5 separate regions of the Homo sapiens genome follow, and regions 1, 3, 4 and 5 are each linked to region 2. The links come from fine-mapping of genetic effects on gene expression. A gene starts in region 2. Each other region holds a variant in brackets. All regions are shown on one strand. Distances are from middle to middle.

What was found. PIP is the estimated chance that this variant, and not a neighbour inherited with it, causes the effect.
Region 1: its variant is the best candidate, but not a certain one, in a credible set for the expression of LIG4 in whole blood (INTERVAL, PIP 0.51).
Region 3: its variant is the best candidate, but not a certain one, in a credible set for the expression of LIG4 in visceral fat (GTEx, PIP 0.61).
Region 4: its variant is the best candidate, but not a certain one, in a credible set for the expression of LIG4 in transverse colon (GTEx, PIP 0.72).
Region 5: its variant is the best candidate, but not a certain one, in a credible set for the expression of LIG4 in cerebral cortex (GTEx, PIP 0.52).

The regions. Positions count from the first base shown.
Region 1 is chr13:108,180,912-108,187,270 of GRCh38, reverse strand. No RefSeq gene overlaps it. Among named protein-coding and RNA genes, the nearest start is that of LIG4, 31 kb to the left of the region's middle. The variant G/A (reference allele first, on the strand shown) is at 3,237.
Region 2 is chr13:108,212,653-108,218,755 of GRCh38, reverse strand. It overlaps LIG4 (DNA ligase 4), which reads left to right and starts at 3,220. Exons shown (of 3, transcript NM_206937.2): 1 at 3,220-3,272; 2 at 4,146-4,218. It overlaps ABHD13 (abhydrolase domain containing 13), which reads right to left and starts at 364. Exons shown (of 2, transcript NM_032859.3): 1 at 97-364. RefSeq lists silencers at 1-81, 3,018-3,157 and enhancers at 362-691, 3,001-3,295.
Region 3 is chr13:108,233,577-108,239,935 of GRCh38, reverse strand. It overlaps ABHD13 (abhydrolase domain containing 13), which reads right to left. Exons shown (of 2, transcript NM_032859.3): 2 at 5,693-6,359. Among named protein-coding and RNA genes, the nearest start is that of ABHD13, 18 kb to the right of the region's middle. The variant C/T (reference allele first, on the strand shown) is at 3,371.
Region 4 is chr13:108,258,011-108,264,369 of GRCh38, reverse strand. No RefSeq gene overlaps it. Among named protein-coding and RNA genes, the nearest start is that of TNFSF13B, 8.5 kb to the left of the region's middle. The variant C/T (reference allele first, on the strand shown) is at 2,353.
Region 5 is chr13:108,188,315-108,194,673 of GRCh38, reverse strand. No RefSeq gene overlaps it. Among named protein-coding and RNA genes, the nearest start is that of LIG4, 24 kb to the left of the region's middle. RefSeq lists an enhancer at 1-115. The variant A/G (reference allele first, on the strand shown) is at 3,023.

The DNA of each region.
Region 1 (6,359 bases), 32 kb after region 2:
TTACTAAACAATAACAATGAAAATGATATATAAAAATATTCAAAACCATAAAATATAGATTAAAGAAAACAAATGACTATAATATTTATAAAAAGATATCCATACCATCCATAACAAAATAAGACAAACGAAAGTCATATTTTTCTTATTGTTATCAAATTTGGAAAGCAAAACTTTAATAATACTTTGTTTGGTAAGGGCGTGAGAAAAATAGATACTCTCATCCTTTTTTGACAGAAATATTTATGTTTATATTATGTGTTGATTCTGATTTACTATCGGGGGGCGCATGGCAGTTCCTATCATCAAAATTTAAAATGCATTTATGCTTGGACGAAGTAATTTAATTTCTAGAGATTTATCATATAAATATAGTTACACATGTACAAAAAGATATTTTCAAGGTTAGTTACTGTAGAATTATAATGCTGAAGAAGAGGAAGTAATTTAAATGTTAATTAACAGAATTTTGATTAAATACATGATGATATATCAGGCAATGATAATATGCAACCATAGTCATGTGTTGCATAGCAACACTTCAGGCAACAAAGAACTGCATGTACAACAGTGATCCCATGAGATTATAATACCGTAGTTTTACTGTCCCTTTCTATGTTTAGATACACAAATGCATACCTTTATGCTGGAATTACCTGCAGTATTCAGTAGAGTAGCATGCAGTACAGGTTTATAGCCTAAAAGCAATAGGCTGTAGCAAATGGCCTAGGTGTGTAGTAGGCTGTACCGTCCGGGTTTGTGTCATACACTTTATGGCATTCCTAAAAATGACAAAATTGCCTAACAACCCATTTCTCAGAATGTATCCCTGTCGTTAAGCAACACATGACTGTATTTAAAAAGAATAAGGCATTTTGATGTGTACTGCTATGAAAGGATCTTCAAGATACATTAAGTAGAAAAAAACAGAAGGTGTAAGACACTATGTGGAGGCTTTCACCATTTGCATTGTTTTATAAAAGAGGAATGAACGAGTGTGCTCACACATGGTATCAGCTCTCTTCAGAGGTGCACGGGAACTGTCAAAGTGTCCCCTCCAAAGAAGGAAACTGAGGATCTTGGGAGACAGAGGTGATAAACAGAAGTTTAGCCTTTCTCTTTACACATTCATTTGTACCCTCTAAATTTTGTTCCATGTTTGTGTATTATCTATTGAAAATAAAAAGGACCAACAAATGAAATACCTATTTACACCAATAATTATAATCGCTGCTGTCCTTCGAGCTTTCCAAAACACAGGCCCTGTTGTCTGCATAGAGGCGTAGGAAACATTATTGCCCTTGCCTGTGTGACTGTGCAGTCACCATCTTTCTAATATAAAAGTGTTATCTTTGTATGAATTGTAGTATTGAGAAGCTATATCAATTTGGTTATTTAATATGTAGAAATTAAAAATAAAAAACATGTTTATTAAAAATATTAAAAATAGCATGAAAAAGCGATTTTAATCACATGGAAGTTCTGTTGGGGTTTAAGGCGTGTCACCTAACTGAAACAGCCAGGATTAAGAAGACTTGACTATATTCTTGACACATTTTTATAATGATTACAATTAGCTGGCATTCATGTTTGACATCAGAACAAGCCAAATTCAAATGATGTTCTGTCTTATTTTTCAGGAATAAGTAATAATTCTAAGAACTTAGTCGAATCACAACAGAGATTCACTGCTTTCTGTTCTTGCTACTATTGCACTGACAATGAACACAATTGGGCATTAGTTCTTGTACTGTAAATGTAAATAAAAAGATAAGACCTGGCATGTCAAAAATGGATACGCCAGATTGGCTCTGAGATGGGAAATGAAAGAAGAACTTGCCAAATGGGTTCAGTTTCCTCTCAGCAGTGTTGTTTTTCTCTGATCAATGTCACAGAGGAGATGCTTGGGTAAGATAGTTTCCCTCTAGAGTGTCTCTCAAAATGGGAGTTCTCCAAATATACTGGTTTTCTTTAGCGTACACTTATTAATTGAAGGAGTTGTCCTTTTTTTTGTATGGGAATCCCCAGTGTAAAATGAATTTGAACTTTTTTCAATAGAGAAATCTAGTGATGTGTTTCTTATCATATTGCCCCCTAAGAATAAGTTCATGAGGATATCACCAGCAAAATGCTTTTTCAGACAAGCTGTGAACAGCCAGGCACAAATGCCTGCCTTGGTAGTAACAGCTGCCAGATTATGATTCACTGAACAGGACAATAAATTTCAGCCTTATTGGATTTTGTTAATTATGTAAATGAGGTCACTGTAGAGGCAGTTGCTAATTATCAGTTACTATTGAAAACCTGATGGGAGAGGTGGAGATGATATGCATAATTTTAATTATATTCATTTATTTGAACAGAGTAAGAGCGAATTACAGTTTTCATGATCTAGTTCTTGGTTAGCACCACTCTTTAAAATGAAATCCCACAGATATGGAAAGAAGTATATGCAAGGATGTTTATCACAGTATTATTCGCAATAGGAAAAAATCTAGGGTGATCTAAACAGATGAATGAAAATAGAACATTTCATATGATACATAACTGTGGAACTATTGAGGAAGATTTAGTCACATACGTGCAATACAGTTGATATAATATGTAAGTTAAAAAGTATATTTTAAATGCATAGAAAAATAGAACTGTAATCATATGTCAAAATGTGAGCACTATATATAAGTGATGTAATTATGGGTGCTTTGTTTTGTGTTTTTCTGAGTTTTTCTAATACTTTTGAGAGGCAAAAGTTCTAAATAAATGGAACTGGTATGAACTTCAAAGATGATGCTGGGTACTGAAACTAAAGACCAAAATCAGAAATCTTATTTTGCTCTCCAAGTAGAATTCTTAAGATACGTCCTTTTTTCCTCTTAGCTCATTTTAATTGTTCAGTAAGTTAATTTACTAAAAAGTTAAGTTTAATTTTAACGATTTAATTTTTTAACAATTCCTTTATGTATTTCATGTTTTTATTAACGGGAAAGTGGGAGTTATGTTTTCTCTAGTTGTATGTGGTCAGGCATAATCTAGTAATTTATTGATAGTATAGCTGACACCAAATAGAAATTGGAATATCACAGAGCTTCACTTATTCTTCTCTGCTGTAAAGTCTAAGGTAAAAATGATGACGTGGCCCAGTCTACAAAGAAGAATTCTAAGGGAATGAGCCCTAATACACGCATTTTTTCCCACCTTCTTTAAACAAAGAACTGATCTTGTAGCACCACATATCA[G/A]AATGAAGTAAGATTAAAAAGTGAAAATTCACCAGGTGTTCCTTGTGAAAATGGTAGAAACTATGAGTTATGAAGCTAGCAACATACATCATATGCATTGTAACCAAATCATGTGATACCTGTTTTCTGTCTTCTCTATGGAACCCTTAGGATGAGCCTGATAACTTGGTGCAGTTTAGCATTCCTAACCCCCATGTAGATCATAAATCTTGCTTGAAGACCATGCCTATTAAGAGCAACAAACAAAAATCAGAAGAGAGAGAGAGAGAGAACAATTTTAAAAAATGGCTTAGGGCTGAGAAACCAGAGAACCTCATTTCCTGGTAATGAAAGACACCTCATGTAATGATCCCCATTATCTATTCATCATTGCTTCCTCTTCAACACTCAAATTATGCTTCCATTTCTCAACATGATATCCTTGTTCTAATCATCAGGCTCTCTCTCCATTGGTCCAGCTCCCTCACCAGTCTACAATAAATCATTCCTGGAAAAATACAGGAAATATACATGTATTACCATTTTTATCATTGCCTATGTTCACAGAGATTCCGGAGCACCCCTGACCCACCCCTCTGCCTGCAAATCTCCATAATATTTTGCATGGCTCAGTCCTAGTCTCACCTACTCCATTCGCCCCTCTAAACCTCCCCCTCTTGGAACTGCCGTTGTGATTCTAGCATAACACATGTAATTTGGTACTTAATCACTCTCTGATTTATCTAGATAGTCTCAATAGTTCTTTGGGGGAAATTCAGTCTTTTATATACATTTTTAGGTTTCTCCCTTAATTGTAACTTACAGTATAATAGTATACATTAAATACCTGTTAACAAATTGCCTAGATATTATTGTTCTGTTAAACTTTTATGCTTGTATTTTTGTTTTAGTAGTGTTTCCATAAAAACAAGTTGGTAAGTAAATATTCTATAAGAGTGCTGATTTTTCATAAATATTTAGATAAAAAGAAGCTCCATGGTAGGTCAATAATGTCTAATTTCAAAGGAAAAAAATCCTGGGCCAGCAAGGATAAGTGGAGGAGGAAATAAAGTTAACTTTAGAAATATCCAAAAACGAACTGCGGAAACTAAATGATTTAACATGTTTGGGTGGGGCCTGGTATTGGCAATAGCTGGATGCACCTGCTACCAATTTTAAGTTGTTGCAGTGTTGTTTATGTGCTTGGACTCTGGAGCCAGAGTGCCTGAGTAATATTGCTGGCTGAGTGACATTGGGAAATTAGTTTACTAAGAAAAAGCTGTGTGATTCTGGGCTGTTAACTTAGTAACTCCAAGGTTAAGTGTACGAGTAGGTGAAATTGTGACAACACAGGATCTCCCTCAAGGGACTGTTGTCAAGATTAAATGTGTGAATACCTGTCAAGAACTTAAAATAACCGCTTGATACCACAGACAGTTAAACTTTTGTGAGGCCTGAAACTTATACAACTTCCCAGCCTTTCTATAACAAAATTTTCAAAAATTAAGAATGTAAAATTAGATGTGAGATCAGGTGATATCACTGAGAAAGGCTGAGTAAAGACCTCAAACATCCTCCCCTCCAAAAGCTATGTAAACACTGGTAACTTGTCAACATCAACCTTTTCAGCATGCTGTTAATTAACTAAAGGCTTCAGCAATCCAGGGAAGTTATTTAAGAACAGCTTGTAGAATTGCTCCCAAAACTTTTTGAGGTAGTTTTATCTTTATTTTACAAAAAGAAGAAACCGAGGTTTGGGGTGGTTAAAATCTTGCCTTACTGTATTGAAAGTGGGAAACAGGCCAGGCTCTGTGGCTCATGCCTGTAATCCCAGCACTTTGGGAGGCCAAGACGGGCGGATCACTTGAGGTCAGGAGTTTGAGAGCAGTCTGGCCAATGTAGTGAAACCCCGTCTCTACTAAAAATACAAAAATTAGCTGGGCGTGGTGGCGCACACCTATAGTCCCAGCTACTCGGGAGGCTGAGGTGGGAGAATTGCTTCAACCAGGGAGGTGGAGGTTGCAGTGAGCTGACATTGTGCCATTGCACTCCAGCCTGGGCAACAGAGGGAAACTCCATCTCAAAAATAAAAAAAAAAAAAAAATTAAAAAAAAGAAAGAAAGAAAAGGAAGTGGGAAACAACTAATGTTATGGTGGAGAAATTTGGCAGACTCTGTCTTAGGTGATGGTCAAGGTCAACATGGAAAGTGATGAACCGTATTGATAGCATGGACCCTTGATATGATATGTGAGAATAACACTCTACTGCTGTGATTTTCTCCCCCAAAATTCATAATCCAAGCATAATCTTGAAAAATCCATGAGACAAATCTAAATAGAGAGACATTCTACAAAATACCTGACCAATACTTCTCAAAACTGTCAAGGCCATCATAAAACAAAAAAGGTCTGAGAAACTGTCACAGCCAAGAGGAGTGTAAGGAGACATGAAGAATAATTGTAATGTGACATTCTGGATGGGATCCAGAACAGAAAATTTACCTTGATGAAAAACTAAGAACATTCAAATGAAGTATGAATTTTAGTTAATAGCAATGCATCCACCTTGGCTTGTTAATTGTGACAATACTATTTTAATAGTACCATATTAACATCAAACGTTAATAGTAGGGGATACTGGGAATGGGGCTATGGGAACTCTACTATCTTTGCACCTTTTCTGTAAGCATAAAACTATTCTAGGCCGGGTGCAGTGGCTCACACCTGTAATCCCAGCACTTTGGGAGGCCGAGGTGGGCAGATCACGAGGCCAGGAGAGTAGACCAGCTTGGTGAACATGGTGAAACCCCGTCTCTACTAAAATACAAAAACTTAGCCTGGCGTGGTGGCACGCACCTGTAGTCCCAGCTACTCGAGAGGCTGAGGCAGGAGAATCGCTTGAACCTGGGAGGCAGAGGTTGCAGTGAGCCGAGATCGCGCCACGGCACTCCAGCCTGGTGACAGAGCAAGACTCCGTCTCAAAAAAAAAAAAAAAAAAAAAAACTATTCTAAAATTTTAAAAGGTTTATTTTTAAAAATCTGCCCCCAGAGAACCTGGGGGCATAGTTAGTATGCGGGGGAATTGATATTCAGACTCAAAGTGTTTGCATTATACAAAGCTACTGCATTAGTGCCCGAACAAAA
Region 2 (6,103 bases):
CCCGCCTGGAGGAGCCGGCGGCTCCCCGCGACCCTCCTAGAAGGAGCGGACCGGCGCTCGGGCCCCGCGGGCTCGGGGTCCCCGAGCCGCACTTACTCAGACTCGCGGACAGGCTGCGCAGTCGGCCGCGGGCACGAAACCGGGCGCCGCGCAGCAGCGTACCCCCGCGTCGCTTCCGTCGCTCCTCATCATCCTCCTCCAGCCCAGGGGCCGCTGCCGGCGCCACGGTCTAGCCCGGAGCTCCTGCTGCGAGCTGTGGCCCCACTTCCGGCCCCCGCTCGGGTGTCGCCGGCAAATGCCCCCGCCGGCTCCCACATAACCTGTTCTCCGTCTCCGCTCCCGGAGTGGGAACCCTGCCCGCTCTTCCGAGCATGCGCAGAAGCCGCTGCCAGTGAGCCCCCGCGACGGTGGCCCGGACGGAAAAGATACCTCGGCGGCGTGGGCCCGGCTCCCTGCTCCAGGACCTAGGGATCTTGGCCTTCCACCCTCCTCCGAGCACCAGGACTCCCTCCAGTTCCGTACCCGAGGCCTCCGTGGTGAAGAGGTGCCGGACCCGATGAGCTCGGGAGTCCACCATCGCTCTGCAAGCCGCAGGTTTGCGGAGCAATTTGTTCTGCCTGATAGGGTTGTTAAGGGTGTCGCAATGAGGTCCACGATTTAAAGCGCTTCCATAACTATTTTTCTCCTTTTACCTCTACGAGAGTGGACTGTCAAGGGCGAATGCAGGTTTTGTGAGGCCTGAACCTTGTGCCATTTGGAGAGCCCTTTTAAAGAAAAATAATGTAAAATTGTCTTATTTTTGCAAATTTTACCGAGGTACACGACCATGGGAACACCTCGTTAGGGCCCCTCTCAAGGCCTTGGAAGTGTTCGCAAAAATGGGCCCTTAAAACTTGGGCTTCATTAGCTTCGCTGTCAACCCCCCTGTGCACTGAAGTGTACACACTTGTTTACAGATGTGTGCCTCCCCTCCCTTGGGCTTTCCTTATTCTATGTCCCCTATTTTATATATACAGAGGATATTTCATAAATCTGTGGGTTTTTTTTTTTTTCCTTTTGAGATGGAGCCTCGCTCTTGTCGCCCAGGCTGGAGTGCAATGGCGTGATCTCGGCTCACTGCAACCTCCGCCTCCCTGGTTCAAGCGATTCTCTCGCCTCAGCCTCTGACCTAGCTGGGATTACAGGTGCCCGCCACCACGCCCCGCTACTTTTTGTTTTTGTTTTGTTGCTGTTTTGAGACGGAGTTTCGCTCTTGTTTCCCAGGCTGGAGTGCAATGGCAAGATCTCGGCTCACCGCAACCTCCCGCCTCCCGGGTTCAAGCGATTCTCCTGCCTCAGCCTCCGGAGTAGCTGGGATTACAGGCATGCGCCACCACGCCCAGCTAATTTTGTATTTTTCTTCAGTAGAGACGGGATTTCACCATGTTGGCCAGGCTGCTCTCAAACTCCCCACCTCTGGTGATCCACCCACCTCGGCCTCCCAAAGTGCTGGGATTACAGGCGTGAGCCACCAGGCCCGGCCTAATTTTTGTATTTTTTAGTAGAGACGGGGGTTCACCATGTTGGCCAGGCTGGTGTCAAACTCCTGACCTCAAGTGATCCGCTCACCTCAGCCTCTTAAAGTGCTGGGATTACAGGCATTAGCCACTGGCCCGGCCTGTGGTGTTGTTGTTATTGAACATATGTGTCTTGCTACCAGATGGAGAGCTCCAGGTCAAAGCTGGGTTCTTGAATCATAGCTTCCTAATCTTGATCACGGAATAAGTGCCAAGCATATATAAAGTAGACCATTTACATAAATAAATTAATAATCATGGCAACTCTAGAAGATACTTAGTGAAAAAAACCCTTGATTGTCTTTGAACCAATCAACTAAAATAACATGATGAAATGGAGACTGGGCTTTGAATCAATTTGGAGTTTGCCTGGTTTCATAATTCATGGTTCTTCTCATGTAACTAATACAAAGTCCAGCTTCTGACATTGTAGGAGCTCAGTAGAGGTTGAACAAGCTACAAATGTACACGGATAGGTACCCTCTCCTAAGATGGGCAAGTGGAGGCTCCTCTACCTTAACACTATTCATTTTTCCTCCAAAATAAATTGATAACTAAATTGAAGAGCAGATACTCACAAAACAATATCATGAGACTTTACAACATCACAGATGATTTTAGATATTCAGGCATATTAGGTCAATTAGACATACGAAGTAAATAACTGAATGTTCTTGGGCTAGACGGAACCTCCGCTACAAACTAGCACTGAATGAAATGTGTCAGTTTTGAAAAAGGAGGTTTTTATACATTACACAACCTCTAAGGGCACTTAACAGCTCTAATATGTTTTATCAGGGCCCACTGCAGCAAAATTTATTTTATTGTAAAGCAATATTTTATGCTAAAATAAAATAGTTCTAAAAGTTGTTTCCACCCCTCTTTATGAATAACTTCTCACTTCTCCATGGCGAAAGAGGACTGACCACAGCAAAAATTCGGTGGAAACCAACAGCTCCTGGAACACAAAAACTGGGGTTGTTTATAATCTCTCCACCCTGAATATCTAGCACCATTACTATATAATAATAGGTGCTCAATAAAGGTTTGTTAAATAACTTTATTTTTAAACCTTAAACAGATACTAGAAGAGTCCATAGTTGATTTCTGGTCATGCAACGGTTTATTTCTATATTGTAAGTTATGTATTGTTATGTATTATTTCTGTATTAAGAGAACTGAGACCACAGTAGCAAACATCATTTAAAAAAAAAAACAGCTCTATATAGTTTGCAAAAGCCTATTTTTTAAAAGTTTAAATGAAACAACCAACGTTTTGAGTTGGGAGGATGTCCTGTTCTCTCTTGGGAGTTTTCACAACCAGCGAAATCAGTATAGTTACCACTGTTTTACGTACAGAGAACAAGAATTAGAGGCTATCACTAGCCAGAGCACAAAGTGATCTTAGGTCTCCCTCGAGACAAAATCCACTGGCGTGTGGATCAACTGCTTGCAGAGAGCATCTGCTGCCGAGGCCAATAGGAGCCGTGTGTACTCAAGACCCTAACCAGGATCCTGCAGGTCCCGCCTCCGCAGCCCCACGGGGCTGCCGGCCCCCCCACCTCCCATCGCGAGCCTGGCTGCGCCGGCGTGCTTGAGCCCGGTGACTGCAAGGCCCCGGGTCTCCCCTGCGCCTGCGCGGCGAGCAGCTGGCGGAACCGGCATCTTCTGGCGCCAGCTTCCGGCTTAGCGGCTGAGCTTCAGGCTTGACGTCAGGTGGGAAGGGTGTGGGGTGGCAGGTGGGGGCGGTTGGGAGGTTGGGGGGGGTTGGGGTGGGGGGGGTGGGGGGTGGCAGATTGACGGTGTGGGGGGAGTCAAGTGGAAGGTGTGGTCCAGCAGGCGGCGAGAAGTCTGTGGGGCAACAGACCGGGGGAAGGTCTGTGGGGCGTCAGGCGGGGTATCTGTGGGACGTCAGGTTGGGGTCTGTAGGGCGTCACGTTGGGGGTCTGTGGGGCGTCAGAGGGGGGAATCTGTGGGGCGGCAGGTGGGGGGTGTTCGGGGCGGGGTTTGGGGTGTGTGTGGCGGCAGGAGGCGGGGGAGGTCTGTGGGGCGTCAGGTTAGGGTCTGTGAGGTGTCAGGCGGGGTTTACGTGGGGTGGCAGGTGTGGGGTGTGTGGAGAGTCAAGTGGGGGGTGTGGGGCGTCAGATTGGGGGTCTGGGGGATCAGATGGGTGGTGTCTGGGACGTCAGGCGGGGGTCGGGGGGTCGTCAGGCGGGGGATGTGTGGGGAGTCAAGTAGGGGAAGTGGGGCGTCAGATTGGGGGTCTGGGGGATCCGGTCGTGGGGGTGTCTGGGACGTCAGGCGGGGGGCCTGAGGGGCGTCAGGTGGGGGGGTCTGGGAGGCGTCAGGCGGGGGTCGGTCTATGGGGGCAGCAAGCAGGGTGTTTGTGCAGCGGCAGGTGATGGGAGTTGCCGAGTCCACAGCGCTGTAGACTGCGCCGCATTAGAAGCCTGGCCTCCTGATGCTGTGCTCTTCATCTAGACCCAAGCCCCAGGTCGTGGGACGATTTCTCCCGTTTTTGACTCCCTGGAACTGTATTGCCTGCTTTACCTGCGTACATGTTGATTCTTTCTCATGGCAACCCCGCAGGAAACCATCAAGATCTCATTTTACAGCTGGGATTCTCTGGTTCACAGAGGTAACGGAGCTTGCCCGAGGCCAGGTATTCACTGGGAATCCGTGAAGGGTTGGGGGAGAGTAGGGGGAACGGGCAGAGGAATGATGTAGACTCCTTAGGGATTTTCCATTTTCCGAGAGGGTACAGGGGGCATTGGAGCGGGAGAGACTTTAGGCTTGGAGGGAATTACTTTATTTCTCTTCTTACACTTGGTCTTTCATTAACTTTTGGGATCCCAAAGCCCTTCTAGCGTCTTTGTCTGCTCATTTCTTTTTGCTGAGATTGTCCCAAATTGTCACTAAGTGCTGTGGAAGATAGGCAGCTGTAAACCCTTTGTTTCCTAGGGAAACACAGCTTGTCAAGGGTTGCATGAAGGATACTTCAGTTGCATTCGTCACTTACTCCTTTTTTTCCTCTCTCTTTTTTAAGTGCAATAGCATAGCACTTAATCACCTTCCATAGTCACTGAATAAAACCTGCCGGTTTATTTTCATGTGTCACTTCAGGACAATTTAGTCAGAACTGAATGAATGATGAATCGTTATTGTGTACTAATTGCTTGCATTCATTCTCCTGAAAGCTTTGCTTATTGTTAAAGAGTGAAGCTTCTTCCCACCTTTTTATCTCGTTAATATTTTGCAATATTTATATTTTAAATGTTGCTTGGATCAGCAAGCATTATAGTATTAAAATTATCAAGACTTACTACTTTTTAAAGCACATTTTGTAGATTATCTGATTTTTATCTTCATTCTAATTTCTACATAGTTTTTAACCCCATTTTATACTTTAGGAAACTGAAGCTTAGAGAAATTAAGTAATTGCCCAGTATCACACAGCTGTTAAATGTTACCATCCACATTTGAACTCAGATTTATTAGAGTCTAAAACCTGAGCCCTAACCAGGAACCTCCTCATTTGTCTTACTGCAAATGGAATGAATCAGCTAAAATCCTCAGAATCCAAAAAATAAAATTAGCATGTAAAAATGAATGGAAGTCCTAATCTTTGACTTTTTATGCCGTTGTAATGAGCAAAAATACTTACGACTAGTTTATGGCAATTTTGGAATCCTTGTTATAGGCGTAGCCATTTTAGGATACATGTGTATCCACACCATTACCTACATTTTGTCATTATAAAGTAATTTAAGTCCTTGCCTGGGATTTGTTGAGCGAAACTTTAACTTTGAGACCATGTAGAATCTATAGATATATCTGTAGAAACTATATACCAATATTTGAATATTAAAGAAATATTAGTTAACCTACTTTATTTTACATAGTTTATATAGAAATTGTAGATATAGCATTGTGTACCCTGTTTACTCCCTTGAGGGAGCAAATTTTGGGAGATAGGGCAGTGAACATACATAACCAGGTGTTACAGTCAGTTATGCAAACCAGATTCAGAGAGAGGAAACAACAGTATATTCAAAGATAAAAGTTTCAGGAAAGTGGTCTGTCATGCGTTTATCCCTCGATCTAACCCACTCAGTAGAAGCTGGGTTTCCTTTGTCAGAAATTAGACTGAGAAGTGCACCTTTTTTCTCTATAGGCCACCAAATGGCTGTTGTAAACCATTGCCAGGGCAGTCAGAGCTACTGAATATTTTTAACCAAACTGAATCTCACCCACTGTGTGTCTGCGTGCGTGTGTGAGTGTGTGGTATGTAACCAGACCATAGCTTTCCCTAGTGTGCTTATCCAGGAGTCAACTCTAGGTGTTCAGTAATTCATTCAGCAAACCTCCTACATGTCTGCCACTAGAGCACAAATTACAGCACAATTCCTGGCCTCTAGATACTGACAGTATAGTAAATGTAGTATTGTAATTAGCCATTTGATTTATTTTACTGGATACTAGATAATGTAGCCTTGTGCATGTGTGTGTTGCTCATTTGTTTGCGAATTGGAAGATGGGGAGTCACA
Region 3 (6,359 bases), 21 kb before region 2:
CAGAACAAAAGACAAAACCACATGATTATCTCAATAGATGCAGAAAAGGCCTTTGACAAAATTCAACAACGCTTCATGCTAAAAACTCAATAAATTAGGTATTGATGGGACGTATCTCAAAATAATAAGAGCTATCTATGACAAACCCACAGCCAATATCATATGGAATGGGCAAAAACTGGAAGCATTCCCTTGGAAAACTGGCACAAGACAGGGATGCCCTCTCTTACCACTCCTATTCAACATAGTGTTGGAAGTTCTGGCCAGGGCAATCAGGCAGGAGAAGGAAATAAAGGGTATTCAATTAGGAAAAGAGGAAGTCAAATTATCCCTGTTTGCAGATGACATGATTGTATATCTAGAAAACCCCATTGTCTCAGCCCAAAATCTCCTTAAGCTGATAAGCAACTTCAGCAAAGTCTCAGGATACAAAATCAATGTACAAAAATCACAAGCATTCTTATACACCAATAACAGACAAACAGAGAGCCAAATCATGAGTGAACTCCCATTCACAATTGCTTCAAAGAGAATAAAATACCTAGGAATCCAACTTAAAAGGGATGTGAAGGACCTCTTCAAGGAGAACTACAAACCACTGCTCAATGAAATAAAAGAGGATACAAAGAAATGGAAGAACATTCCATGCTCATGGGTAGGAAGAATCAATATCGTGAAAATGGCCATACTGCCCAAGATAATTTATAGATTCAATGCCATCCCCATCAAGCTACCAATGACTTTCTTCACAGAATTGGAAAAAACTACTTTAAAGTTCATATGGAACCAAAAAAGAGCCCGCACCACCAAGTCAATCCTTAGCCAAAAGAACAAAGCTGGAGGCATCATGCTACCTCACTTCAAACTATACTACAAGGCTACAGTAACCAAAACAGCATGGTACTGGTACCAAAACAGAGATATAGATCAATGGAACAGAACAGAGCCCTCAGAAATAATGCTGCATATCTACAAATATCTGATCTTTGACAAACCTGACAAAAACAAGCAATGGGGAAAGGATTCCCTATTTAATAAATGGTGCTGGGAAAACTAGCTAGCCATATGTAGAAAGCTGAAACTGGATCCCTTCCTTACACCTTATACAAAAATTAATTCAAGATGGATTAAAGACTTACATGTTAGACCTAAAACTATAAAAACCCTAGAAGAAAACCTAGGCATTACCATTCAGGACATAGGCATGGGCAAGGACTTCATGTCTAAAACACCGAAAGCAATGGCAACAAAAGCCAAAATTGACAAATGGGATCTAATTAAACTAAAGAGCTTCTGCACAGCAAAAGAAACTACCATCAGAGTGAACAGGCAACCTACAAAATGGGAGAAAATTTTCGCAACCTACTCATCTGACAAACGGCTAATATCCAGAATCTACAATGAACTCAAACAAATATACAAGAAAAAAACAAACAACCCCATCAAAAAGTGGGCAAAGGACATGAACAGACACTTCTCAAAAGAAGACATTTATGCAGCCAAAAAACACATGAAAAAATGCTCACCATCACTGGCCGTCAGAGAAATGCAAATCAAAACCACAATGAGATACCATCTCACACCAGTTAGAATGGCAATCATTAAAAAGTCAGGAAACAACAGGTGCTGGAGAGGATGTGGAGAAATAGGAACACTTTTACACTGTTGGTGGGACTGTAAACTAGTTCAACCATTGTGGAAGTCAGTGTGGCGATTCCTCAGGGATCTAGAACTAGAAATACCATTTGACCCAGCCATCCCATTACTGGGTATATACCCAAAGGACTATAAATCATGCTGCTATAAAGACACATGCACACGTATGTTTATTGCGGCTCTATTCACAATAGCAAAGACTTGGAACCAACCCAAATGTCCAACAATGATAGACTGGATTAAGAAAATGTGGCACATATACACCATGGAATACTATGCAGCCATAAAAAATGATGAGTTCATGTCCTTTGTAGGGACATGGATGAAATTGGAAATCATCATTCTCAGTAAACTATCGCAAGGACAAAAAACCAAACACCGCATATTCTCACTCATAGGTGGGAATTGTACAATGAGAACACATGGACACAGGAAGGGGAACATCACACTCTGGGGACTGTTGTGGGCTGGGGGGAGGGGGGAGGGATAGCATTAGGAGATGTACCTAATGCCAAATGACGAGTTGATGGGTGCAGCACACCAGCATGGCACATGTATACGTATGTAACTAACCTGCACATTGTGCACATGTACCCTAAAACTTAAAGTATAATAATAATAATAATAAAAAGAAAAACTATTAAATCAGCTCTCATTCATCTCCAGGGCCACTTTTAAGAAAGAATTAGGATTGTTTATTGTCTTACTCACTTTGGGCTGCTGTAACAAGTATCAGAGACTAAATGGCTTAAACAGAAATTTATTTCTCACATTTCTGGAGGCTAGAAAGTCCAAGATCAAGGTGCTGGCAGACCCGATGTCTGGTAAGGGCTCTCTTACTGATTGGTAGACAGCTATCTCCTTGTATCCTCACATGGCAGAGAGAGGTAGGAGTAGCCCTCTTCCTTTCATGAGAGCCCTCATTCCTCCACACTCATAAGGTCACTGCCCCGCAAATCCCCACCTCCTAATACCACTGCTTTGGGGATTAGGATCTCACACATGAATTTTGGGAGAGCACAAATAGTCATTCCATAGCATTTACTGTCTCCAGAGATTTTGCCCTTCCCACACACTCCCTAATGCAGTCTGTCCTGTGTTTTGAGACATGCATGCTCTTTGCATAGAGGAGCCTGGAACTCACTCATACCTCAAGAAATAGGCTCTGGAACAAAAGGCTAAGAAAAATGCCAGTGTCACATTAATTCAACTGTCTGTGTCATTTCATTTGTTTAAAAAGTAATGATGATGATAAATTTTTAATAAGGGAACCATGGGTACAGGGTTAAAAGACGCCGGGCGCGGTGGCTCATGCCTGTAATCCCAGCACTTTGAGAGGCCGAGACAGGCGATCACGAGGTCAGGAGATCGAGACCATCCTGGCTAACATGGTGAAACCGCGTCTCTACTAAAAATACAAAAAATTAGCCGGCCTGGTGGCGGGCGCCTGTAATCCCAGCTACTCGGAAGGCTGAGGCAGAATGGTGTGAACCCGGGAGGCGGAGCTTGCAGTGAGCGGAGATCCCGCCACTGCACTCCAGCCTGGGCCACAGAGCAAGACTCCGTCTCAAAAAAAAAAAAAAAAAAAAAAAAAAAATTACGGAAAGAAATCAAAACTGGGGACAGTCACTATCTCCCAAACTGGATGTCCCACGACAAGGGCTTCTTTGCCCTTCCACTAATGTGCCCACCTGACTTTCTGGTTCTTCTTGTC[C/T]TATCCAACAGATCTACTTGATACTGCCACACTTGTTGATCTCCACTGATCTCTGTTTCACATCCACCATCTGTACTCTTTGCTCCTCTCCTCCCTGAGCTTACTGTTACTAGGCTCTTCTGCTCTGCTTAAGAAGGAGCCCTCAGGGAACATACGACCTGCACAATTATTGCCCCTCTTATTTTCTGCAGACCCGTGTAATTACGGGTAACTTCCAATGTTTCCACTTTAATTATTGCTTTGGGCTGTGTGTAACTTCCAGGTTTGTTGCTATTTTAGGTCTAAACTTTTAAGAAATGTAAAGTATTAAAGTAATGGCCTTCGTGCCTTTCTTCTTAAAGATGGAAGTTTGGACAAACTTTATAATCAGTGTGCACATTCTATACAGAAAATGTATCTAGTACCACAACATGCTCAGCACTGTGCCAGGTGCCATGTAAGACAGGAATCACATGACATTCCTGTCAGATCAAAAGACAATATATTATAAAGAAATGAATTGAATATAATCAGGTATCAAAATACAAAATGCTTTGAATGCAATGGGTGTTCAGAAAAAGAAAAAAAAAAGCTACTGGTAGAGCTACCATAAATTTGGTCAGGGACTCAGAGGCCTAGAGAGGTGGGAGGGAGGCACTGGATCTAGAGGTTAAAGCACCAGATATAAATAAATGCACAGAAGAGGAGTAAGTTTGATTCAAGAAAGAGAAAGAACGGATACCCTTTACAAGGTTTAGTTTGTAAAGGACCCCATAGAATGAGAACTCTGACTTTGATCTACTGAGAAATGCAGCCACTGAAAACCACTGGATAGGGAATGATAAGGAGTTTTTCTGGTAAGTTACAAAGAATGGGGCAATGATCCAGTTCATATTCAGTTATTAAGAATAAACGACAAAAAGGAGTCAGAACAATACTTTGAACACAAAAATCACCCAATAAAAATGTTGACTACTATGAAATAATGTCAGGGACTAGTATGGTAGTAGTGGAAATGTTGGGAAAATAAATCTTATTGGAAAAACAGCAAGATGTGTTTCAAAATATCAGGAACAAAAAGACAACTCCAAGATTTTTTGAGAGGATAACTCTTATCTAGATTTTCCTATAGAAACACACATTTAATGACTTTGAAAACATGTACTTTACTGTATAATACTTATTTCAATTCACAGCCAATTCTTTTGGATTCCTAAATAACTGACCAACTTGTAACCCATTTCAATATTTCTAATCTATTCCAACATGAACAAAATTTTCAAATTGTTTGGGTAAATTAGCAAATGAATAGCTGTCCTCGATTTAGAATTAGAGACCTGGATTGACATCTTGGTTCACTCTAGGTAACCTTGAGCATGTTACTGAACCACTCCGAGCCATTTCTTACAAAATGGGACTACAAATCACTCTAAGGTTTGTTGTGAGGATTCAATGACATTAACACATTCAACACCTGGGCCTTATATTTGAAAATACTCAAAAAATTTCTTTACCTTCCTCTCCCCTTAGTAAGATAGGAGTTATAGTCTCTAGCCAGATCTAATTGTTCATGCTTTTTAGTATGTAACAGAATGTAATGAAAGAGTTGGAGAGTGAAATGGGAATGTGAAAAAAACTTATCTTTCAAATTTAAGAAATAGTAATCTAAAAATGACTTCACCCTGGGATTCAAGTTGGCTATCTTTCAGGGTAGTACATGAGAGACCCTAGCTCCCACTAGATCTACCCATACAAAGATGGGCTCCAATACGTGAATTCTTCATCTTCCCTTTCAGGGGACCATTTAAGATTCATCTTACACTTCCTATGATCCAACTCCTTCTGACATATTCAAGCATGCACATTTCTTGTTAGGAAAAGCAAGGTATAGGCCCCTAAAGGCTGAGTTAGTATCAGGTCATTTTTTGATCATTAAAAACCATTAACTAAAATACAAACAAGAGGGGGGGAAAAGCAGAATTTTTAAAAAAAAGCATTTTATGAAATCTGAAGGCAACATAATTATGAAGTTAAAATGTATTCATTCCTAGATTCAATTAACTAAAGAAATGCATTAGGGATTAGTCATTCACCAGTGGTTTATGTATAGTTTTAATATTAGCCTAAATTAAATATATGTAAGAGGATAATACTCTCCGGGGAAGGAAATATAAATCTAACTTCTATTTTTTATCCACACCATTACTAGAATAAAATTCATTAATTTCAGTGCAAATTCAGGAATTTTACGTAACCATTGAAGAAATTTTAATGTCCTACCATAAAATTCTAGATTAACAATTTTTAAAAAAAGACTGAATACAAACTATCTGAAGACATTAATCAAATTTTTAATGTACCAATTTATTGCATATGTCAGTACAGAAAAATAGAAAGTATATTTTAAAAGAAATTTATTGTAAAAAACAAATGTAAATGTTTGCTTGCCATGGTTAGCACACAATGTACTATGACATTCAAATTTGAGTTATAAAATTTTATCACTTCAAATAAAATATGGCAAATAACAAAAATATGATTTACATTATGAAATGGGATTAACTTATTTTATACTGAACATACTTGAATATGTTAAAAACAACTTGAATTTTCCATATACGCTGTACTGACAGAAATAATTATAAATTATGTTAAACACACACTCACCTGTTACATATGTATATACGGCACTTTTTGTAAAAAAGTGTCTCATACATGGTCCTATTTTTAAACTACATTTTAAGATACAAAATATAAATGGAGGTATATTTGCGCCATTTGGCAAAAATGTATAGACTAGTATTAAGATGACTGCATTTATCTTGCCATACAAATGAATATATTATTTCCAATTTGCTAAAACTATGTGTGTATATATATATATAGTATTAAGAATAAACAGAAGTACATTTCATTTTCTACCCTATCAATTTAAAAAATAAATGTCTGTGCTCTGTCATTTCCATCTTTACCTGAGTAATATGAAAATACCTAAATTTAAGTGGATAAC
Region 4 (6,359 bases), 45 kb before region 2:
AGAAGAGGATGGGTTTAGGAGTGTAGGCTCTGAAGCCAGAAGCATCTGTATGCCCAATTCTGCTTCGCCATCTTAACAGAATCTTTCTTGCCCCAAATCTAGACGCTGACTTTGTTTAGATATCTATCTCTGTGGGATGCCGACATAATCTCACACTTTAGGGAAGTCCTAATCATGAAATCTACTCACGATGACTCCATCTACATCACCACTGATTGCTAAGGAGGGACAAATGAGAGAGGCTTTTTACAGTTGGTTGTGAGGTGGTCTCCTGGGGGCACTGCTAAGAAAGAGTTCCTCATTCTTAAAGAGATTGACAAGAAAGAGATGCTCTTCTTCCACTAGACATTACAAGCCTGTCTGTGATCACCGAGAACTGCCATCCTGCAACTGCCGTCAGGCCCAGACTGAAACAGTGACGGCAAGAACAGGATTCTGGAGGGAACCTGGCTCTGTAAGGACATAATTGTCCTGCTGGATTACTCAACTCTTCATGCTTGTTATTTGGATCATACTATTTCCTAACTGTTTACGCCAATGTGAGACAAGATTAGGTGTTAATTCATCCAAAGACATCCTAAATCTGCTAGTTAGATTAGCAGTTGATTAGGATCCAAAGACATACTAATTCTGCTAGTTGTAAGAATTGTATTCTTACAACCAAAGAACTTTGTATAAGAGAGTTTTAAATGTTCTTTCAGAAATTTTCCAAATGTCCACTTTTTGAAACTACGGTGTAAAGAGAAAAGGTCAACACCCACAAGCTAGAAAAACTAATTCATTTGTTAAGAAGAGTCTTGACCGGGCGCGGTGGCTCATGCCTGTAATCCCAGCACTTTGGGAGACCGAGGCGGGTGGATCACGAGGTCAGGAGATCGAGACCACGGTGAACCCCGTCTCTACTAAAAATACAAAAAATTAGCCAGGCGCGGTGGCGGGCGCCTGTAGTCCCAGCTACTTGGGAGGCTGAGGCAGGAGAATGGCGTGAACCCGGGAGGTGGAGCTTGCAGTGAGCCGAGATTGTGCCACTGCACTGCAGCCTGGGCGACAGAGCAAGACTCCATCTCAAAAAAAAAAAAAAAAAGAGTCTTACATCCAGTTTTAATATAGCTATTTTTTAATAATTTAAGCTCTTTAATATGTTAGGAATCTTAAGAAAAATTATTATTATGTGAAGATGTGTTTAATGAATCTGTCTTTTCTATGTGGAACCAAAAAAACGTAGTCAACTCTTTCAGAAAAAAAAATGCAAAATTAGAATTTGTGCATCTCCGTGTAAGAAGGGAATAATTTCAAACTAAGAAAAAGTAAGAGAGATATAGTGTATTCTGAGAAAACTGCAACATGAATGCATCTTTCTTCTCCTTTACTAACAACTGTAAATTATCTTTCTTCTCTGAGCCAAATTGCAGTAGAACTTAGAGGTAATTGGGTGTTAGCGAGGGGCTTTTTGCTCTAATTGGCCCTAGATAGAGAAAAATAATGTTTGAGGTTTATTTCTCGAGAGTATTTGCAGTACTATATGTGAGACCCAAGTCTCAATGGGTCTTAGATAGAATGGTTGAGCAGAAATCTGTGGGCCCCAGGCAGTGGCTAACATCAGCCTCACAGGAATATGCCAAGTTTCCCGGGCCTCTGAGTACCCACAAAGGGAGTAAGTGCTTGGGGTTAGTCCTCCCTGCCCCTAAAGCTGAGAGACTATCAGGGGATCACAAGAAACAAAAGCCTCCCCCAAATGCCTCAGAGTAGACTAGAAGTTTCCCTGTTAGTCCAATCCTGGCTCATAGGGTTAGACAGGACTTGATTTCCCACCTCCTGAGGCTAGACTGCCCCAGCTGAGCCATCAAATCAAACACAGGAGGTGTTGAAGAGAGAAAGCTTGAAATTGGGATATCGGGAGAGATGCAAGAAGTGGCTGGACGTATAAATAGTGGCTAGACTGCAGTGTTTTTGCATGCACAGCTGTGGTTGTGTGAAATGTGAAAATGAAGCCATTTATATATATATTTTAAAAAGATTATGGCAGAGGGTAGGGTGGAAGTAGGGAAGATATGTACAGAAAGAAATGATAAACTAAGAGTGTTCAGCTCCATGAGTGCAGAAATGTGTGGTTTCTAGCCTATTGTATCTCTAGTGCCTGGAACACTTGTCCTTCATGGATTCTGCTATTCTCTGTTAAATGCTGACTAAATAAACGTCTTCCAATGAAAATTAAAAAAAAGAGAGAGAGAGGGAGAGATAAACCATCAAAGAAGGAGAGCACAGAACATCCCAGCATACACACAACACAAAGGGATGGAGACAACTTGAATTTTAAAAACTAATAGAGGACTTAAGATTCAACTGAAGAAA[C/T]TTTTTAGGAACTAAAAAATATCTCTATAGTTTTCAATTAAATAATTTAATACATGCATTGAAGAAAAGGATGGTCACTTTTGAGCACTGAGTTACTGGCCTGCAGGCTCAAATAGAAGTAAAATCTCAAAACTCAAGAGTGTTTTGCAACTCACATGCAAGAAAAATGGGAACATAAAAGGAGGGAGAGGATATAGACTAAATAGAGGCAATGACATAAAAACTTACAGGAGAAAAGAATAATGCTTCTTAATCTATGAAAGAGCTGAAACTACAGTTTGAATTAGCTTATCAAGTCCTAGGTTAAAATGCTGAGAAAATCTGTATGGGTAGCTTTTTGGAAAAGAAAAATAAGCAAGTAGGTCGGGCGCGGTGGCTCACGCCTGTAATCCCAGCACTTTGGGAGGCCGAGTTGGGCGGATCACGAGGTCAGGAGATCGAGACCATCCTGGCTAACATGGTGAAACCCCGTCTCTATTTAAAAAAATACAAAAAATTAGCCGGGCGTGGTGGCGGGCGCCTGTAGTCCCAGCTACTCAGGAGGCTGAGGCAGGAGAATGGTGTGAACGCGGGAGGCGGAGCTTGCAGTGAACAGAGATCGCGCCGCTGCACTCCAGCCTGGGCTACAGAGGGAGACTCCGAGAAAGAAAAGAAAGAAAGGAAGGGAGGACGGGAGGAAGGAAGGAAAGGATGCTGAGAAAAATCGACCCAGGTAAGGTCTGATGGTATTACTGAATATAGAAAGAGTTGTTGGGATATGATGAAAATAAAGTATATAAAATCTTGTAAAATGCATTTAAAGCTATTTTTATGAGAAAAATCATATCTTTGATGGCATGTTTTAAAAAGAAGAATGGAAAGAAATAATCTGAGCATACAGGTCACAAAGCCCTAACAAGTTAAAAGGTGAAAACAAATTAAGCTTAAAGATTGGAGTAAAAAATATAAAAGAGATTAATGAAATAAATAATAACTTTACAATAAAGAGAATTAAAAATTGGTTATTTGACATAACAAATAAAATTAATAATTTGTAGTAAGACACAGTACAAAGGAGAAAGTATGAAATTTCAATAACAGAAATTTTAAAAGCGGGACATTTTAGAGCTATTACAGATCCTAAACAGGTAAGAGGATATTATGAATAAATTTGTGTGTAAAATTAAGGGGAAATTGGAGTATACATGCATTTCTCTTGAATACAAAAAAAAAATGAAATAACAAAGTAGCTAAACCAATTGCAAAGGAAGGATATTCACCATCCACTCTTTCAGTATTGTTCTAGGTACTAGGCATACAAAAATTAAAACAGAGAGAAAAAAAGTCAGAAAGAAAAAAGAAAACTCCTGTGTCATGGAGTTAAATTCTATTGTATAAGATCATTTTAAATGATTTCAATTTTTACTTGATAAATTTATACAAAACAGTTTCTCATCTGATTTTCCATTTCTTTTGTATCTGTGGTTAAGCATTTTTTTTAAAAATTGTCTGCATACAATTTCTCCTTTTATTCTTGAAAGAATAGCAAAAACTTGTCTGTTTTGTTAGTGTCAAATAAGTAATCAGCAGATAGTTCTGTTTATTATCATTATGAATTGTCTCATTCTACTTGTTTGTTTTGTTGTTTTCTTTAGTCTGACTTCTTCAGTTGAGTGTTCAAACATTCATTTCTTTTCTTATTTGTTGATAGGCTATTAAATTTCCCAAGAGCATTGCTTAGTAAAATTCAATGATATCAGGTATGTATTGTGTTTTATTATTATTGTGTTTTTTATATATTGTGCTTATTATTTTCTAGAAACGATTAATAATATAAATTAATCTAAAAATTTTGTTTGGCTTTCCAATTTGACTTAAAAGTTATTTAAGAGATATTTGTTAATTTGTTTTAATTTCCAGAAATTTTCTTCATTTTTCTCACTAACTTCTATTTTATCGTATTGCATTCAGATAATTTTCTCTCACAATTTCTACTTATAAAGCTTAATCAGAGTTTCTTTAGGGATTAATAGTATTGTCATTTGTGTGAATGTAACATAGCTACTTGAAAAGAAGGGATATCCTTAATAATTTTATTATTTTAGTCTACAATATCTGCATTTTTGTTTATATGATGTCATAGAATAATAGAGATGAGTAAAATTTCCCATATCTAATGTTTTTTCCTGTGTATTTCCAGGTGTTTTTCTTGTGGTTTCAGCTTTATGGTTATTGATGCTATATTATTTAACATTATAACACTTAGTGCAAAGATATTAAAAAATGAGAGGGAGATAATAAATTATGTCTATCAAAAAGATAACTTTTTCCCCAAATGCACAAGTGATACTTAAAATTTTAATCAAAATGGACAACTTTAAAAAGTAGTCTTTTACAGGCTACCATGACGGATAGTTTGCAAAGACTGGAAGAACTACTCTCTGGTGGCATGCCTGTTTGCAATGTGACTGATAATAAGGTTGGTCTGTCTCCTTATCCCCTAAATCTGAACTGACCTTGTGAATTGCTTGCTTTGACCAGTAGAACACACAGGACTGCCTCCCTGAGACCCGCATGCAAGAAAGTCAGTCTAGCTTACTGGAGGATGAGAAGATACATTGAAAACCACTAAAGTGCCTGAACCACCTGCCAGCACTTACTGCCAAATGTGTGGGTGAGGCTATCTTGAACCCCCAGCCAGCCTGGCTGTCAGAGGCATGCGGCCACACACATGAACTCAGGTGGAGCTGGCACAAGAGCCACCTGAAAAACTCACAGAATTACAAAAATAATAAAGGGGAGCTGTTACAGGGCACTAAAGTAGGGTGGTTTATTACTTAGTAATACCTAAGTGATATATCCCATTCATTGATTATAATCTCATAAAAATAGAAATCATTACAAAAAGGTGATCAAAGAGTTGCTTACTTGAAAATGTAAAAATACATTCATAGGTCAAGTTTGTGTCAAAGAAGTATGCGAAACTGAGGTTAGAAATTACCTAGAAAATCACAAAAGGGAAAACAACTTATACCAAACATATGAGCCAGAGCAGTACTCACTAAAAAATTATAGCATTGAAAACAAAGCTATAATATAAACACAATGATGTCCAAAAGAATTAATTCTCATCCAAAAGAATTTAAAAAGGAATAAGCCAAAATAATCCAGGTAATGAAATTAAATAAAGATAGCTAACACTGATGATTAATTATATATTGTTAGTTAAAACGTGAGCAAAAGTCATTCTTTATATATACATATACATATACAAAAGTCATTCTTTATATATACATTCTTATATATACATTCTTTATATATACATTCTTTATATATACATATATATGTATATATACATATATACATATATACGTATACGTATACATATACATATACATATACATATACATATACATATATATGTATACATATATACATATATACATATACATATACATATACATATATACATATACATATATACATATACATATACAAAAGTCATTCTTTATATATACATATGTCTATATAAAGAATGACTTTTGCTCACGTTTTAACTAACAATATATAATTAATCATCAGTGTTAGCTATCTTTATTTAATTTCATTACCTGGATTGTTTTGGCTTATCCCTTTTTAAATTCTTTTGGATGAGAATTAATTCTTTTGGACATCATTGTGTTTATATTATAGCTTTGTCTTCAATGCTATAATTTTTTAGTGGTTTCAGCTTTATGGTATGTGTATATATACACATATATATGTGTATACGTATACACATATATATATGTGTATATATACACATTATATATAATGTGTATATATACACATATATATGTATATATATACACATATATGTGTATGTGTGTGTTTGTGTGTGTGTATATATATATATATATATATACACTTCAAGTTCTGGTTTATATGTGCAGAGCGTGCAGTTTTGTTACATAGGTATACACGTGCCATGGTGGTTTGTTTGAAAATGTAAAATAATAAGGTTGTTTTGGAAGCCAATCTAATGATAC
Region 5 (6,359 bases), 24 kb after region 2:
TGTGGGGGCAGGGGTTTTCCCAGGTCCATGAGAGTGCAGGGATCCCTGGGTCCAGAGCCATGGCTAGGCAGCTGCAGTTGCACCCAGGAGCATGGGCTCCCACCCTGCCAACTTGGTAGGGCATGGGGCTCCCACTGGGATCTCCTGCTCCCGGCCCCTGCTGGCTCCACAGAGCGCCCAGCCACACTTCCCCCACTGCAGCTGGCATCCTCACAGTGGCCGCTTCAAATAGGCTGCAGCCACCATCGATTCCAGGTCTTTAGATAATTAACTCTTTCAACCAATTGCCAATCAGAAAATCTTTGAATCCACCTACGATCTGGAAACACTTGCTTCATGTTGTTCCACCTTTTCGGGCCAAATCAGTGTACACCTTACATGTAGTGATTGATGTCTGTCTTTAACTTCTGCCCCCTAAAATATATAAAATCAAACTTTAACCCAACCACCTTAGGCACATATTCTTAGGACCTCCTGAGGCTGTGTCACAGGTCAAAGCCCTCACATTTGGCTCTGAAAAAATCTCTTCAAATGTTGTACAGGGTTGGGTTTTTTTCATCAGCAACATACTGGGGTAAAACTGGATTAGGTGTCCTTGTTGAGGCATAAGTCAGAGCTGTAGAGTTTGGCTTTGTCAAATCCTGCTGGAACATATTTACCTGCATGAATCAGCTTCACATGCATGCTGATGGAATTCATTCCTGGGTAACTCATTTTGGGGGTGAAATCTGAAATACAGAACAGTGATAGGACAGTTACCAGGGAAGCCTTGAAGTTTGACCAGGAAAATTTTCAGTGTACATGGCAACTTTCTTTAAATTCTGAGGAACTGACATGAGCAGAGGGAATGTGTTCTCTCCTGATGACTTCCGGAGGAGAATAGGAATACTGAAATTTGAAAATGGCAGATTTTTCCACAATAGGAGAACAGAATATCAGACTAAGTATAGGACGAACTGCCTCCAGAGCTGAGTTATCTGTATATTGGAAGCCCACTCAAGGTGGCCAAGCCCGCTGAATTCTGCAGACAGAAACAACAAAGCATGGGAGATTGGGACACATGCATTTAAGGTCTCATATGTCCATGAGATTTTTGCCATTATAGTCTAGTTTTTATGTGCTTTTCTTTAGTCATTCTTAGCTCTCCCTAATTAGACTGGGTTCTCTTAAAATCCCAAGATAAGAGTCTTCTCGTAGAAGCTTTTGATCTTCTACATTCTATGGCCAGTCACTGAAAAGTTCTTTATCTATCAGCTTAGCTTATTTACACTGTTTCAGTGTTGTGATGTAATCCCATTTTCATTCACAGGTTAACTCAGAATAGGTTCATTATATACCTTCTATGTGCAAAAGCATGATGCTTGGCACAGTGTGGGTTCAGATATCAGAAAATTTTTATCCACTAAGAGTTTTTAATTTAGAAAAAGAAATATGATTGCAATATTTGATCATATATTAAACTAAGCAGAGTGATATTAAATGTGATGTGTCCATATTTGGAAGATTCTTTTTTCTGAGATGATCCAGGAAAGAAAGTGGCACTTGAGTTGGTACTTTAAGGATAGAGAGGAATTGATAAGGATGGGTCAGAAAGAGGCCTCCTGCTGCATTGTTGGATTTTAATATTTTAAGGTGGTTTGAGTCTTACAAAGAATGATTTATTTTGTTTTTGCATGTTTTAACTGCCTCTCAACAATTATTTTTGGCAATTTGAAATATTTGTTTTGTTTTCAATGAGTGAACTTTACAACTAAATATAATAATACCTTTAATGCTTTATTTTTCTCTTACATTTTTAAAATGTACTAGCTATTTAGTTCTCTATTAGGGCTATATTGGAATTAAATATGGCCCTGACTTTTTTTTTTGTCTCCTCTGGCTTGTATTTTGATAGAATATTCTTTACTTTCAGTTAGCACCTAAAATGAAATACCTTCTACTTTCCCTACATTCTTTCCCTTCTCTTCCCATTTTTATAATTGTATATATCTAGCATTATATGTATTGTCATTCTTATGTCCATGTTTTAAAATGTTTCAATGAATATTATTGTGTCAAAACTTCTTTGATTATTTGTTGGTGGATTGAGACTTGTTTTCTACAGATTCATCAGGTAATACTTATGGAAACAACTTCCCAAATTATTTCATTTTTATAATAGCTTTACCATGACTTTTATGTCTAAAGTTTAGTTAAGAGGAAATAAAATCAAAGGCTCACATTTTCTTCATTTAAATATCTTAACTCATTATTTCATTGTATCTAGCATAATGCATTGCTATCAAAAGTCTTGGTATCTTTTTCTTTTAAGGAAGGGATTTTCCCTAGATGCCAAAATAATTTATTTTTCAAATGTTTCAGTTATTTTCTTAGAATGTTTTTTGGTGTTGAGCATTCAGAATTAGTTCTTCCAGGTACACTGTATGCCTCTTTAAAATATAAGTTCAAGTCTTTTATTATCCAAAATAGATTCTTGGATTATACACTTAAGCACTTTTTCTAATACTGCTTTAGTTTTCTTCTTTGAGACTCCCATTATATGTATGTTGACTACTCTTTATTTTCCATTTCTCTCACTTTCTCTAGAATACCTTTTATCTCTTATGTCCTTGCTTTATGATTCATTTTCTTCAAATTTTTATTTCTATTTTGATTTCTCATACAATAATTTCTATGCTCTTATGTTCCTTTTAGTTTAGGCTTAATTTCTGAAATAACATTTTCTTTTATTTCAAAATATTTTCTGGGCATACTCAACTCTCTCTTAATGTTCTCCTATTGTTCAGATATCTCAGTACTGATGTTTTCTAATTTTGATGTATATTGCTTTTCCTGCATATATTTAATTATTTTCATAATTTACTATGGCATTCTTTGAGATGATAGATTATATGTTTTTTCTTTCTTTCTTGGTTGTATTCTTTAGCTGTGTCTTCATTTTCTATAGAATGTCACTGATATGGTTTGGCTATGCCCCAAATCTCATCGTGAATTGTAGCTCCCATAATTCCCATGTGTTGTG[A/G]GAGGTGCCTGGTAGGAGGTAACTGAATCATGAGGGTGGTTCCCCCATACTCTTCTTGTGGTAGTGAATAAGTCTCTCGAGATCTGATGGTTTTATATTCACTTCATTCTCATTATCACTTGTCTGCTGACATGTAAGACATCGTTTTCACCTTCTGCCGTGATTGTGAGGCCTCCCCAACCATGTGGAACTGTGAGTCCATTAAACCTCTTTTTGTTTATAAATTACTCAGTCTTGGTTATGCCTTTATCAGGAGCATTAAAACAGATTAAAATAGTTACTCATATTTTGACCTCATCTTTCTTACAACATCTTTGTATGGATTTGGGCTGCAGACCTTGTATGGTGCTATTATAGTAAAGTAAGATTGATTTTCCTGTACGTTTAGAAAGAAGCTTCTGTTGTTCAAGATTTGGACATGAGCCAGGGTGAACTTGCTAGCTTCATATTTACGGGGTTTCCTCTCTTGTTGTTTCTGCAACATACTAAAAATGCAGCCTTTTCATGTAACCACCTCTCCAATACTTTAAGCTATCCATCTCCTCTTGTCTCCTCCATCACTAAACTTCCTATTTTCTTTACTTCCAGCATTTCTGTTATGTTAAATGGGAGACATGTTCCTCCACAGATCCCCCTCAATATGAGGCTCTGTCCTTCTCTGAGAATTTCAGAAATCCCTAATGACGTAGGCTTCCATAGCCCAGCCCTAAATGCTCCACTGACATCCAAGCTTTCAAATGTCCCTTCAAATTCTAAGCACTGTTTTCAGATCCTTCACCTTCAGTGGGGACTCCTCTTTTTGAAAGTGAGTGTTGGTAATTTCTGAATTTCCAGTTTGTTAGAACCATCAGAAGTCCCCCTTGTCTTCCTTCTTCTTTGTCTAGTACAGCTGCTGTGTCCACACAGTTCTTGGTGTTGTAATTGGCATAACCCCATCCCCTTATATGCCACAGTTTGTAGGATACTTTCCTCCTAGTTTTGTTGAAAATGTTCATTTTGGAGTTTTTTTGGTAATTCTAGTTGTTCTGTCTGTTTTAATGAATAATGTAGATAAGACTTGAAAGCTCTATCTCTTTTGTTGTTGCTTCCATCTTGTGTTTCCAGGAGACACATTTAGAATTTTGCCTTTGAGAGCGCTGTTCTCTAACATTTCTACATTAAGGAAAGTTTTATCTTGAATTGGAAATTCACCCCTTTTTTTAGAAAAAAAGAAAACAAAAAACCTGGCTGTGTATTCCCAAAGGGATTTAAGAAATAAAGTATTTCTATTTCTGTTTTTTTTAAGATTTAAAAGCATTAAGTTTACATTGTTCTTAAAGCTTTACAATTACACTGTATGAGATCAATTTGTAAAATGGGGATATTTTATTCTAATTAGAGCAACACTGATGAGGTGCCATCTTGGTTTTTGTTTATGGCGTCTTGCTTTCAGGAGCACTGCAGTGCAGGAATGTCCACACACATCCAGAGCAATGACGCTGAGCATCAGGTGTGGGTCTGGGTGAACTCTAGAATCCACATTTTCTCCCTATTCCTGTCACTCATAGTGCCTCACACTCAGGAAGAGTAAATGATGGTTTGGCATCAAACACACCTAATTTTAGGCATTAATGACATATGGATTTTTCTCCTCGTTTGTTAATTGCTGTTGTGTTTTTCTGATACCACCAACATTGAACAGATTGGGAAGTTATGTTTATTTGTTCTTGAATACAAAAACAAATGTCCCCCAGAAACAATTGCAAATGCATTAAATCAATCACAATACTGCCAGTTTATAATGTCCAGCTATAGAGTAGGGAAAATACGACTCCCTTCTTCCCACGAGATTCTAATCTGATTTGGGGTTAAACACCGGGGAAATAGAAGTGCAAAGGAGGCCGGGCACGGTGGCTCACGCCTGTAATCCCAGCATTTTGGGAGGCTGAGGCTGGTGGATCACGAGGTCAGGAGATCGAGACCATCCTGGCTAACACGGTAAAATCCCATCTCTGCTGAAAATACAAAAAATTAGCCGGGCGTGGTGGCGGGCGCCTGTAGTCCCGGCTACTAAGAAGGCTGAGGCAGGAGAATGGCGTGAACCCGGGAGGCGGAGCTTACAGCGAGCCCAGATCGCGCCACTGCACTTCAGCTGGGCGACAGAGTGAGACTCCGTCTCAAAAAAAAAAAAAAAATTGCAAAGGAATGGGGGCTTCATTTTACCTCTAAATCTGAGAATCTCACTCATGTTATCTTTTCTGTATCTCCTCCTTTTCCATCCCATTTGGGAGTGACCATTTATACCAACCAACCAAGATAGTGTTGTTTACTTACATTTGCAACTACATTTTGTCCATAATATCTCAGTTTATTAATAACTTAAATGAATCTTATCTCATTTGTTCTGGGAGATAGGTGTAATTATGTTCCCCATTTGAAGGAGTAACCTAAGACTTATTCATCTAATAAAATACAGTGTTCTTAACTTGTCTACCTTCTTTCTGAATCATTTTTCATACTGCCATTACATTTTCCTTTTTAAAATACTATGTATTTTATGTATGTATATATTGTTATAAAATTTAGTCCAAAATCTGTAACATGACATACATGATGCTAATAAATAGCTATTCTTCAGTGAGTGTTTATAGTGTGTCAAGAATTATCCTAAATTCTTTACCTACACTATTAGTTCACTTAATCCTCACACCAAAGCACAAATAAGTACTATTCTAAACTTGATTTTATGGAAGAGGTTATAGGGGCACAGATAAGTTACATAACTTGCTCAAGTATAGAAAACTGGTAATGTATGTATTCAGGATTTTAACCCAGACATCTGCTTCACCATCTCTATAGTTCACCACTGCCTAAATGCACTCAATATTTCAAGTCCAGTTTATACCCTGATCCATACGTGGCATCAGCCGTTTTGCATGCAAAATGTTACATCCTCAGTTTCTCTAATACAACTATCCCTTGTATTTTTTAGTTAATTTTATCCCTTTTTCTTTTTTGCCACTTTTGTGAACTAAAAATTAAATATGTGTCTTTAACTTTGGCCATTGGCTAAACCCTACCACGGTGTTAATCACACTAAAACCCATTATGTAAAAATATTATGTCTGTGTACACCCATGGTAACATGGTAATGGGCATCAGAGTTAAAAAGAAACCTGTCCTATGAGTATTTGCCTGCAATGAAATGTGCACTATCATCAGAAATTAAAGGAAACGAAATCCATGCTAGACTAAAGCAGAAATTACTTCCTGGGCTACACACTAAGAGTTTCCTACAGGTCTTCAAAAAAGAAATGCTGGATGTTAATGATCACAATTCTGTTGTATAATATCCTTA